Homo sapiens: one gene and its partners. The protein of the gene in region 2 purifies or fractionates together with the protein of the main gene of each other region. This does not show direct contact. Each region holds a gene or a part of one and is shown on either strand. Other genes may lie near its edges. The genes, in order: MTRR, SMS and ETFA.

Region 1 (3,732 bases), on a different chromosome or scaffold from region 2:
CTAATTTAACTTTTTTCAGAAAGGTTGTTTAGCTAAATGTCTAAAAATGAGCTTCCTATAAAATTTTCTTTTTCAAAGCTAACGAACATCATATTTAATTGAAAGAGGCTGATGCAGTCTGTGCTGTGTGCAGAATGCAGAAATGCCCCCATCTGAGCAAGTCCAGATCGAGGGTCCTTCAAGAGCAAAAGGGGACTGTGTCGTACCAGTGCAAATCAACATACTCATGGTACTGCCAGGCAGAGAACCATCATCCCATTTCAGATGAAGAGTAACCCATTTTTTTGCCCAGAGTGACTCTTCTAGTCCTCATACTCCAACAGAAGAGACCTCAGCATTGTCCCTGAGCAGTCGATGTCCTAGGACCTCTCTGTGGCTCTCAGGAAGGGATTGAAAATGCTTGCTAGGGGTGAAGACTAAGCGCTTTATAGGACTTCAAAGCCTTTATTACTTTCTTGTGCTTGTAACTTTGTCATCTCCTTTCCCATAGTGGTAAGTAGTTATGCCTTTAACATTTGCATTTTTCTTTGGTGACACCAAAATGTATATTGTCCTTTTTACTCTTGGGCCAGCAAGATCCTTTTCGATGCCCAGTACAATTAAAGGCACCCTTCTTTGCAAGTCAGGGCCTGATTTCTCCTCCTTTTTCTTAGTGTTTTTTCCACTTAGGACCTCCCCAAAATGCTAAGACCGTGTTGCTGAATGAGGCTGCTCTTCTCACCATCCTGTCCTCAGGCTGGCCCTCTCACCCTCTTCAGTGAAGTCTTCGAGAACCATCAGCAGGAATAGGATGACAGAACACAGGGTGGGGAGTTCTAAGTAGTATTAGAAAGTTCTCTTATCGCATACTAATTTATTTCAATTCTTTTCGTAGATTTTTTGTTACCTTTTAGAATGTTAGAATGTTTGTAACAATACCACATTACGTAGTTATATAAAAAAATTAAAGTCATTGGGACTTATAAAAAATTATATTATTTTCTAATTAAGAACAATTAAAATATCTAAAGCTTGATATTAAGTTGAACACCCTACTAAACCTTATTTTGATGTTTAAAACTCTACGCCATTATACATAGACCTTTTCATATTTTCAATTAAGTAACTGCTAAAAATAAAACATACCAAAACATAAAACATTTCAAAGTTTATTAGTGGATAGTTCAATATTTAAATACAGATTATTTAACCTGCTTTTGAAAGAATACCTACGTATTTTGAAATCACTGATTTTTTTTGATAAATTTTTAAAAACCAAACACTTTAATTATTTTAAATGTAAGATGGAAAATATTTCAAGCCTAAGCATTTTCAGTAATTCTTGAAAGAGTAGCCTTTAATCTTTTTGGGATCATGACTTTATTTTAAATCTGAAAACTGGGCACCTCCCTGCAGAAAACTGCGCACCTCCCTGCAGAAAACTGCACATATACCTAGTAAGGGTTTGCTGAGCTCCTCACCTCTGAAGCCAACTTATGGACCCATTCCTAGAAGCCTTTGCTTTTAAAATTCGCCTTTGGGTAGAAATACTGATTTAAGAGTAAGAAAATGCATCTTATCTGGTTTTTAACTTTAGGAGTTGAAAGAAAAAATAGTAATATTTTACTTGAACACAAAGTTCAAGTGCTTAACTATGATTTAAAACTAGAACATGATTTGAGTATTCTAAATAAGACATGGAATTTTTTTTTTTTTTTTTTTTTTTAGGTAAGGTTATTTTCAGTAGTAGTGAATTAATAATTGCTTGTTTTTATTTTTTTCTAGAACATCTTCCTAAACTTCAACCCAGACCATATTCGTGTGCAAGGTACTACTATTTATTCACGTAATATATAGCATTGTTTCTCCAAAATCTTAGACTCAGGCTTCCAGATCATTAGAGTTTACTAATTTATTCAGTGAAAACTTACCTGCTTTATGGAAGACAGTACCAGGCATAATAAAGCAGAAGAAGAATCATAGAGCTCCTGTCCTCTGGGACTTCATAGAATTTAACATCTTGGGTGGCTTCCCATGGCCCAGTACTATGTTTCCCCACTTAGGAGTCTCAGGCTCCTCCACATGCTTCCTGTGTCCGTGTGCCCAGCCACCTTCACTGAGTGGCAGCCGGAGGCAGGGGAGACAGAAAAGTTCCACTATAAAACATTTGATGAGTCCGGGCGTGGTGACTCACTCCTGTAATCCCAGCACTTTGGGAGGCCGAGGCGGGCGGATCATGAGGTCAGGAGATCAAGACCATCCTGGCTAACACGGTGAAACCCCGTCTCTACTAAAAATACAAAAAATTAGCCGGGCGTGGTGGCAGGCGCCTGTAGTCCCAGCTACTTGGGAGGCTGAGGTGGGAGAATGGCGTGAACCCGGGAGGCGGAGCTTGCAGTGAGCCAAGATCGAGCCACTGCACTCCAGCCTGGGCGACAGTGATACCCTGTCTCAAAAAAATAAAAAAAAAGAATATTTGATGAGCACTGGCTTATAGGATTCTCCCTGTGGCCTTCATTCCATTGCACAGCCTCTACCGTTTTCCCGTCTGGCTCTCTGTTTTGCCTTTCAGTAATAATACAAGAAGGTGCACCATTCTTTTGGTTGAAAGGGGAATTAAGAATGAACTCAAGTTCTTTCGCATTATTTACCGTGTAATGTGAAAAGAAATCTACTTTTGTAGGGATGTCTTTTAAAGATGTTTTTACTTTGAATTTTTAGTTTTCTCCTTTCTGGGTGTATACTTCAGTCACTTTCAAGTTTTATGATCTTACCAGTAGATAATGTATGGATATTTGTTAGAATTTATCCCCATTTCTTCACATCTTTATAATAAATATTGAGTGAATGAATCCTTTACATGAAGATCCTTAGGGCATATTAGATTTTATAAATATCATCTAGTCCTAGTGCAAGCAAATAAAATTGGAAACTTTCTTGAATAACAAAATGTAGGGTGTGAGAGTGTGAAGGTTGGGGGCAGTTTTTAATTACGTAATAATGGCTTTCCTCTGTGAGGATTTGGAAGGTAGATTAGAGCCTATAAGGAAATATTTCTAAACTGAATAAAAGGATTGGTTTGACCCATATGTGTAGTAGTACTGATATCGAGTTCAAAACTTGTCTGTGTATCTTTGCAGCTCAAGTTTATTTCACCCAGGAAAGCTCCATTTTGTCTTCAACATTGTGGAATTTCTGTCTACTGCCACAACAGAGGTTCTGCGGAAGGGAGTATGTACAGGCTGGCTGGCCTTGTTGGTTGCTTCAGTTCTTCAGCCAAACATACATGCATCCCATGAAGACAGCGGGAAAGCCCTGGCTCCTAAGGTAAGAAATTAGTACCTTAACCTCAGCATTGTTAACTCATACTCTTTGTTTCATTAGAAAAAACAGTGTTGTCTCACCCACATCATTCATTACTGTCATAAGAAAATTTATGCTGTTCTTGAATTTTAAAATCTCTATTGCAAGAGCAGAAAACTGTTTACTTCCATGTACTCTTTAACTAGTGTGTGTATTTTCTGAATGTATAAAGCATGAATTTTATATAGTACGGTCTTTGCTTGTCCTATTCATGGAAAAGAAGACCTTTTATGTTGATATTCTTGGTACATTGGCCTGGGGAGGGGTGGAGAACTGTCTAGGAAGTATTTAAGGGGGGTGATGAGAGACAGTCTCATTTTATGTTTAAGATGTATACTGCCTCTCAAATAAGTAGTTTTACATTGGGAGTCTGAGGGCAACTAAAGATTA
Region 2 (3,500 bases):
CCGCCACCACGCCCAGCTAATTTTTTTTTGTATTTTTTTAGTGGAGACGGGGTTTCACTATGTTAGCCAGGATGGTCTCGATCTCCTGACCTCGTGATCCGCCCACCTCAGCCTCCCAAAGTGCTGGGATTACAGGTGTGAGCCACCGCGCCCGGCCTGTCTTGTGGTACTTTTTACAGGTTATTTGACTTATTCTGAGAAGTACCAGTAAATATCCTCTATACCTTTTTAAATTTAGCTAACTTCATTTCTAAGTTGTAGGGACTCTGCATTATTCAAGGGATCAATTCCCTGTCATGCTTGTTACTAGTCTTTCTTCTAGTCTGACTTTTGGCTTGGTAATGACAACATTATAATACCATTAACAGTTTGAGTGTCCTATCTTTAAGAGATTTCTGAACTCCAAGGTTAAGTACTCTAAATTGTCTTAAATGTATTAGTTTTTACATTTAGAGCCTAAGTCACCAAAATTCCTATTTCTATTGTTAGCTAACTTGGTTCTCATGCAGATGGATAACTTCTTATACCGGCATCACACACTAACTCAACTAACGCTTTTCCCAAGTCAACTGAAATGTATCTTAGACCATATTAGCAGTGTGTAGGAATACATACTCAGACCTGTTCAAGTTCCTTTGACATTCCTAGGTCCTTGTGTATTCCTTTCATACTTCCTATTTGATTATCGTGCCTTATAGTACATTAACAACAAATAGGACATATTTCGCTTCACACTATGATTCTTTTTTCAAGTTTTCTTGGGTATTCTTAGATACTTATTTTTACAAATCAACTTCAAAATCAGTTGGTCTACTTTTAAACCCCTCCCCCCTCCTTGGGATTACTCATAATAAATTGGGAAGAATAGACATTGTTCCTTTTTTTTTTTGAGACGGAGTCTTGCTCTGCCACCCAGGCTGGAGTGCAGTGGTGCAATCTTGGCTCACTGCAACCTCCACCTCCCGGGTTCAAGCAATTCTCCTGCCTCAGCCTCCAGAGTAGCTGGATTATAAGCACCCACCACCACGTCGGGCTAATTTTTGTATTTTTAGTAGAGACAGGATTTCACCATGTTGACCAGGCTGTTCTCCAACTCCTGACTTCAAGTGATCCACCCACCTCGGCCTCCCAAAGTGCTGGGATTACAGGTGAGCCACCAAGCCCGGCCTGTTCTTTCAATACAAGAAATACAGCATGCCTCTCCACATATTCAGACTTTGATGTCTTTCAATAACATCTTAACATAATTCATACCAGTCTCACAATACCATTCTTGTTAAATATATTCCTAGGAATTTAACACTTGATTACTTTGAAAGGAAATGGGTGGGAAGGAAATCCTATTTAAATGAGTTAGCATTTAGTATAGAGAAAAAATCTAGGCTGGCTTTATCCAATCACTTTATCAAATTCTCATTAATTCAAATAATTTCCTACGTAAGTTTCCTGGATTTTCTAGTATTCACATCATCTACAAATAATTAGATTTATACTGTTTTCATCTACTTTACTATCTCAGCTACCTCAAAAAATAATGTTGAAAAAGATAATAGGCATCCTCATCTTCTTCCTATTTTCAGTGGAAATGGCTTTTGCTATCTATTATATTTTCTATTTTTCTATTTACCACAACCTAAGTTTCTATTAACGTTCAGGTAGTTTCATCTCTATTGCAATTTTATTTTATTCAAGTAATTTATAATTTAACTTTTATTTTAGATTCAGGAAGTACATGTACAGATTTGTTAGATGGAAATATATATATATATATATATATATTTTTTTTTTTTTTTGGAGACAGTCTCCCTCTGTTGCCCAGGCTGGAGTGCAGTGGTGCAATCTCAGCTCACTGCAACCTCCACCTTCCGGGTTCAAGCGATTCTCCTGCCTCAGCCTTCCATGTAGCTGGAATTACAGGCACACGCCGCCACACCTGGCTAATTTTACATGGCTATACTGCATTAGTTTTTATTTAAAATGACTGCTAAATATTCTCAAATTCTTTGTCATCTGTTATTTTCCTCCTTTAAATTATTCACCTAACGAATTAAGTTGACAGATTTCTTAAAATTGAAATCTTTACACTTCTAACTAAATCCTACTTGAGCATAATATAGACTTAATTTGCCAGATTTAGCTTATTATTTTACTTGGAAATTTTGTACATATGTAAAAGCAATCTTTAGCTTTGTGTACTACTTGATTTTTACTACTAAGGTTTCTTTTTTATTATTATTATTAAGGTTTTTTTTTTTATTAAGATTTTTTTTTTTTTTTGAGACATTCTCGCTCTGCAGCCCAAGCTGGAGTTAGAATGGCCATCATTAAAAAGTCAGGAAGCAACAGATGCTGGAGAGGATGAGGAGAAATAGGAACACTTTTATACTGTTGGTGGGAGTGTAAATTAGTTCAACCATTGTAGAAGACAGCGTAGCGATTCCTCAAGGATCTAGGACTAGAAATACCATTTGACCCAGCGATCACATTACTGGGTATACATACAAAGGATTATAAGTCATTCTACTATAAAGACACATGCACACGTATATTTATTGCGGCACTATTCACAATAGCAAAGACTTGGAACCAACCCAAATGCCCATTAAGGATAGGCTGGATAAAGAAAATGTGGCACATATATGCCATGGAATACTATGCAGCCATAAAAAAGAATGAGTTCATGTCCTCTGCAAGGACATGGATGAAGCTGGAAACCATCATTCTCAGCAAACTAACACAAGAACAGAAAACCAAACACCGCATGTTCTCACTCCTAAGTGTAAGCTGAACAATGAGAACACATGGACACAGGGAGGGGAACATCACACACCGGGGCCGATCGGGGGTAGGGGGCTAGGGGAAGGATAGCATTAGGAGAAATACCTAACGCATGCAGGGCTTAAAACCTAGATGATGGGTTCATAGGTGCAGCAAACCACCATGGCACGTGTATACCTATGTAACAAACCTGTACATTCTGCACATGTACCGTAGAACTGAAAGTATAATAAAAAAAAAAAGAATTAATTTTATTTAATTCAGAGAATCTGGAGTTGGTGCTTTCCCATCATTGGTACGTGTGCACCCTAAATACAAATATACATATAACTCATATGAAGAGACAGATGATGTATTTATCTTCTCAACCAACTATACTAAAAGCTGTTTTAATAAGGCACAATTCTGATCAATAACTTATATTATTAGTTCACTTAAAACTACATTATCCAGAAAACAATTACCTGATAGCAGTCTCCTTTAAGATTGTCTAAGACATCGCCACACGTTTTTCGCATGTATTTCTTACACCCATCAATCACCATTTGGTCAATGTCCGCAACAGGTTAAGGAGAATTTGGGTATATCAAAGAATTCTGAAATAGTAATACTTTAAAGAAAGGATTAAGACAAACAAAGGTTTTATAATACTAACTTGGGTATCACAAATTTAACAAAATGATGAATGAGGCAGTGACTTTATTTTCACACTAAGGACACTC
Region 3 (3,732 bases), on a different chromosome or scaffold from region 2:
CAGGAGCAATGTCTGATATTTCTTACCACTATAACCCTAGACTCCAGTATCCAGCACAGAGCTGACACCAATAAGGGAAGTGAACATTTTTTTTAAAGAACTCTTCGTTGGCCAGTCGCAGTGGCTCACGCCTGTAATCCCAGCAATTTGGGAGGCCGAGGCCGATGGATCACCTGAAGTCAGGAGTTCGAGACCAGCCTGGTCAGTAGAGTGAAACCCCATTTCTCCTAAAAATACGAAAATTAGCTGGGCATGGTGGCACACGCCATAGTCCCAGCTACTCAGGAGGCTAAGGCACAAGAATCACTTGAACCCTGGAGGTGGATGTTTCAGTGAGCCGAGATCACACCACTGCACTCCAGCCTAGGCGAGAGAGACTCCATCTCAAAACAAAACAAAACAAAACAAAACAAACACCTCTTCATCAAAGGAATGAGAACACAAGCCATAGACTGGGACAAAATATGTGCAAAAGACATATCTGATAAAAGACTTATCTAAAAAAAATAAAGAACCCTTAAAAGTCAACATAAAAAATGAACAATCTGATTTAAATAGGGGGAAAGGATCTGAACAGGTACCTCACCAAAGAAGATGGCCAAGAAGCATATGAAAAGATGCTCAACATCAAGATGCTCACTAGGAAATTGCAAATTAAAACGAGATACCACTACACACTTATTAGAATGGTAAAAAACCAAAACACTGACAATACCAAATGCTAGTAAGGATGTGGAACAACAGAAACTCTCATTCATTGCTGGTAAAAATGCAAACTGGTGCAGCCACTTTGGAAGACAGTTTGGCAGTTGCTTATAAAACTAAACATAATCTTACCATACAATCTAGCAACTGCACTCCTTTGTACGTACCCAAATGAGTTGAAAACTTAGGTCCACACAAAAACCAGACGTCTACAGCAGGTTTATTCATAACTGCCAAAACTTGGAAGCAACCAAAATGTCCTTCAGTAAGTGAATAAATATTCATACAATGGAATCTTATTCAGCAGTAACAAGAAATGAGAATGACATGGAGGAACCTTGAATGCATATTACTTAGTGAAAAAAAAAACAGTCTGAAAAGGCTACATGCTGTCTAATCCCAACTATATGACACTCTGTTAAACGCAAAACTATAGAAACAGTAAAAAGATCAGTGACTGCCAGGGATTAGGAGAACAAAGCATAGAGGTTTTTTGTTGTTGTTGTTTTGTTTTTTCCAGGGGGAGTGGGGGCGGGGGCAGTGAAACTATTCTGTATGATATAATAATGGTAGATACCTGTCATTATCCATTTGTCCAAACCCATAGAAGGTACAACACAAAGAGTGAATCCTAATGTAAACTATGGACTCTGGGAAATGCTGATGTCAATGTAAATTCATTAATTGTAACAAATGGACAACTCTGGTGCTGTATGTTGACAGTGGAGGAGGTTGTGGGTGTGTGGACCAGGAAGACTCTCTGTACTTTCCATTGGATTTTGCTGTGAACCTAAAACTGCTCTAAAACATAAAGTCTATTTTCAAAAAATTTTATTTTTAGAGACAGTGTCTTTCTATGTTGCCCAGGCTGGCGTCCAATTCCTGGGCCCAAGGGATCCTCCTGCCTCAGCCTCCTGAGTAGCTAGGACTACAGATGTGTACTACCACACAGGCCAAACTCTACTTAAAAACAAAACAACACAAAACAAAAAAACTTCTGCCAGGTGCAGTGGCTCACACCTGCAATCCCAGCACTTTGAGAGGCCGAGGCGAGTGGATCACCTAAGGTCAGGAGTTCGAGACCAGCCTGGCCAACATGGTGAAACCCTGTTGTCTCTACTAAAAATACAAAAATTAGCTGGGCGTGGTGGCAGGAGTCTGTAATCCCAGCTCTTCCGAAGGCTGCGGCAGGAGAATTGCTTGAACCCAGGAGGCGGAGGTTGCAGTGAGCCAAGATTGCACCCTTGCACTCCAGCCTGGGTGACAAAGCAAGTCTCCATCTCAAAAAACAAACAAACAAAAAATGATTTAAATGTAAGACCTCGAACTATAAAAACCCAAGAAGAAAACATAGGAAATGGCATTTTGAACATAGACCCTGGCAAAGATTTCATGACGAACACTCCAAAAGAAATTGCAACAAAAATAAAAACTTACAAGTGAGACCTAATTAAACTAAAGAGCTTCTGCACAGCAAAATAAACTATCAACAAAGTAAACAGACAACCTACAGAATGGTAAAAAAAAATCTGCAAACTATGCATCTGACAAACGTCTAATAACCAGAATCTATAAGGAACTTAAATCAACAAGCAAAAAACAACCCTATTAAAAAATGGGCAATGGACATCAACAGACACTTCTCATATGTGGCCAACAAGCATATAAAAAAATGCTCAACATTAACTAATCATTAGAGAAATGCAAATAAAAACCACAATGAGACATCTCACACCAGTCAGAATGGCTATTATTTAAAACTCAAAAAACAACAGATGCTGGCAAGGTTGCAGAGAAAAGGAACGCTTATATACTGCTGGTGAGGATGTAAATTAGTTCAGCCACTGCGGAAAGCAATGTGGCGATTTCTCAAAGAACTTAGAACATTCGACCCAGCAATACCATAATTGGGAATATACCCAAAGGAATATGAACCATTCTACCATAAAGATACATGCATGTGCATGTTCATGGCAGCACTATTCACAGTAGCAAAGACATGGAATCAACCTAGATGCCCATGCAAGGGATGGACTGGGTAAAGAAAATGTGGTATATATACACCATGGAATACTACACAGCCATTAAAAAGAATGAGATCATGTCCTTTAGAGCAACATGGACAGTGCTGGAGGCCATTATCCTAAGTGAATTAATGCAGGAACAGAAAAACCAAACATGGAATGTTCTCTCTTGTAAGTGGCAGCCAAACATCAAATACCTATGGATACAAAGAAGGGAACAATAGATACCTGGGCCTATTTGAGGGTGGAGGGTGGGAGCAGGGTGAGAATCAAAAAATTACCTATTGGATGCTATGTTCATTACCTGGGCGGCAAAATAATCTGTACATCAAACCCCCAGGACACACGGTTTACTCATAATAAATCTGCACAGATACCCTGCAAACCTAAAATTGGCCCAGGAGTTTAAGACCAGCCTGGACAATACAGTAAGACCCTGTTTCTATGAAAGATAAAAATTAAAAAATTAGTCAGATGTGGTGGCGCATTCCCGTAGCCCCAGCTACTTGGAAGGCTGAGATGGAAGGATCATTTAAGCCTAGAAGGTTGAGGCTGCAGCGAGTCAAGATCACACCACTGCACTCCAGCCTGGGTGAGAGTAAGACTCTATTTCAAAAAAAAAAAAAAAAAATTGGGGGAAAAAATACAGCAATGATAAATGATTTTAGACAAAACTAAAAAATGAAGTGATGTTTTTATCTAAAGAAAATCCTCGGCCAGGAGCGGTGGCTCACACCTGTAATCCCAGCACTTTGGGAGGCCGAGGCGGGCAGATCACAAGGTCAGGAGAGCGAGACCATCCTGGCTAACATGGTGAAACCCCGTCTCTACTAAAAATACAAAAATTAGCCGGGCGTGGTGGCGGGCACCTGTAGTCCCAGCTACTTGGGAGGCTGAGGCAGATGAATGGCGTGAACCCAGGCAGCAGAGGCTGCAGTGAGTCGAGATGGCGCCACTGCACTCCAGCCTGGGCAACAGTGAGACTCTGTCTCAAAAAAAAAAA

Evidence for each region.
Region 1: the proteins of SMS (region 2) and MTRR fractionate together in Homo sapiens (co-fractionation; one large-scale study listed by BioGRID). This does not show direct contact.
Region 3: the proteins of SMS (region 2) and ETFA purify together in Homo sapiens (affinity purification with mass spectrometry; one large-scale study listed by BioGRID and IntAct). This does not show direct contact.

Annotation. Positions count from the first base shown.
Region 1 is NC_000005.10:7,889,608-7,893,339, forward strand, and holds part of MTRR (methionine synthase reductase), read left to right. Parts: intron 1-653; coding exon of another isoform or gene 654-761; exon of another isoform or gene 762-805; intron 806-1,764; coding exon 1,765-1,807; intron 1,808-3,119; coding exon 3,120-3,306; intron 3,307-3,732. UniProt on the Homo sapiens protein: Key enzyme in methionine and folate homeostasis responsible for the reactivation of methionine synthase (MTR/MS) activity by catalyzing the reductive methylation of MTR-bound cob(II)alamin.
Region 2 is NC_000023.11:21,978,709-21,982,208, reverse strand, and holds part of SMS (spermine synthase), read right to left. Parts: intron 3,333-3,500; coding exon 3,243-3,332; intron 1-3,242. UniProt on the Homo sapiens protein: Catalyzes the production of spermine from spermidine and decarboxylated S-adenosylmethionine (dcSAM).
Region 3 is NC_000015.10:76,301,320-76,305,051, forward strand, and holds part of ETFA (electron transfer flavoprotein subunit alpha, mitochondrial), read right to left. Parts: intron 1-3,732. UniProt on the Homo sapiens protein: Heterodimeric electron transfer flavoprotein that accepts electrons from several mitochondrial dehydrogenases, including acyl-CoA dehydrogenases, glutaryl-CoA and sarcosine dehydrogenase.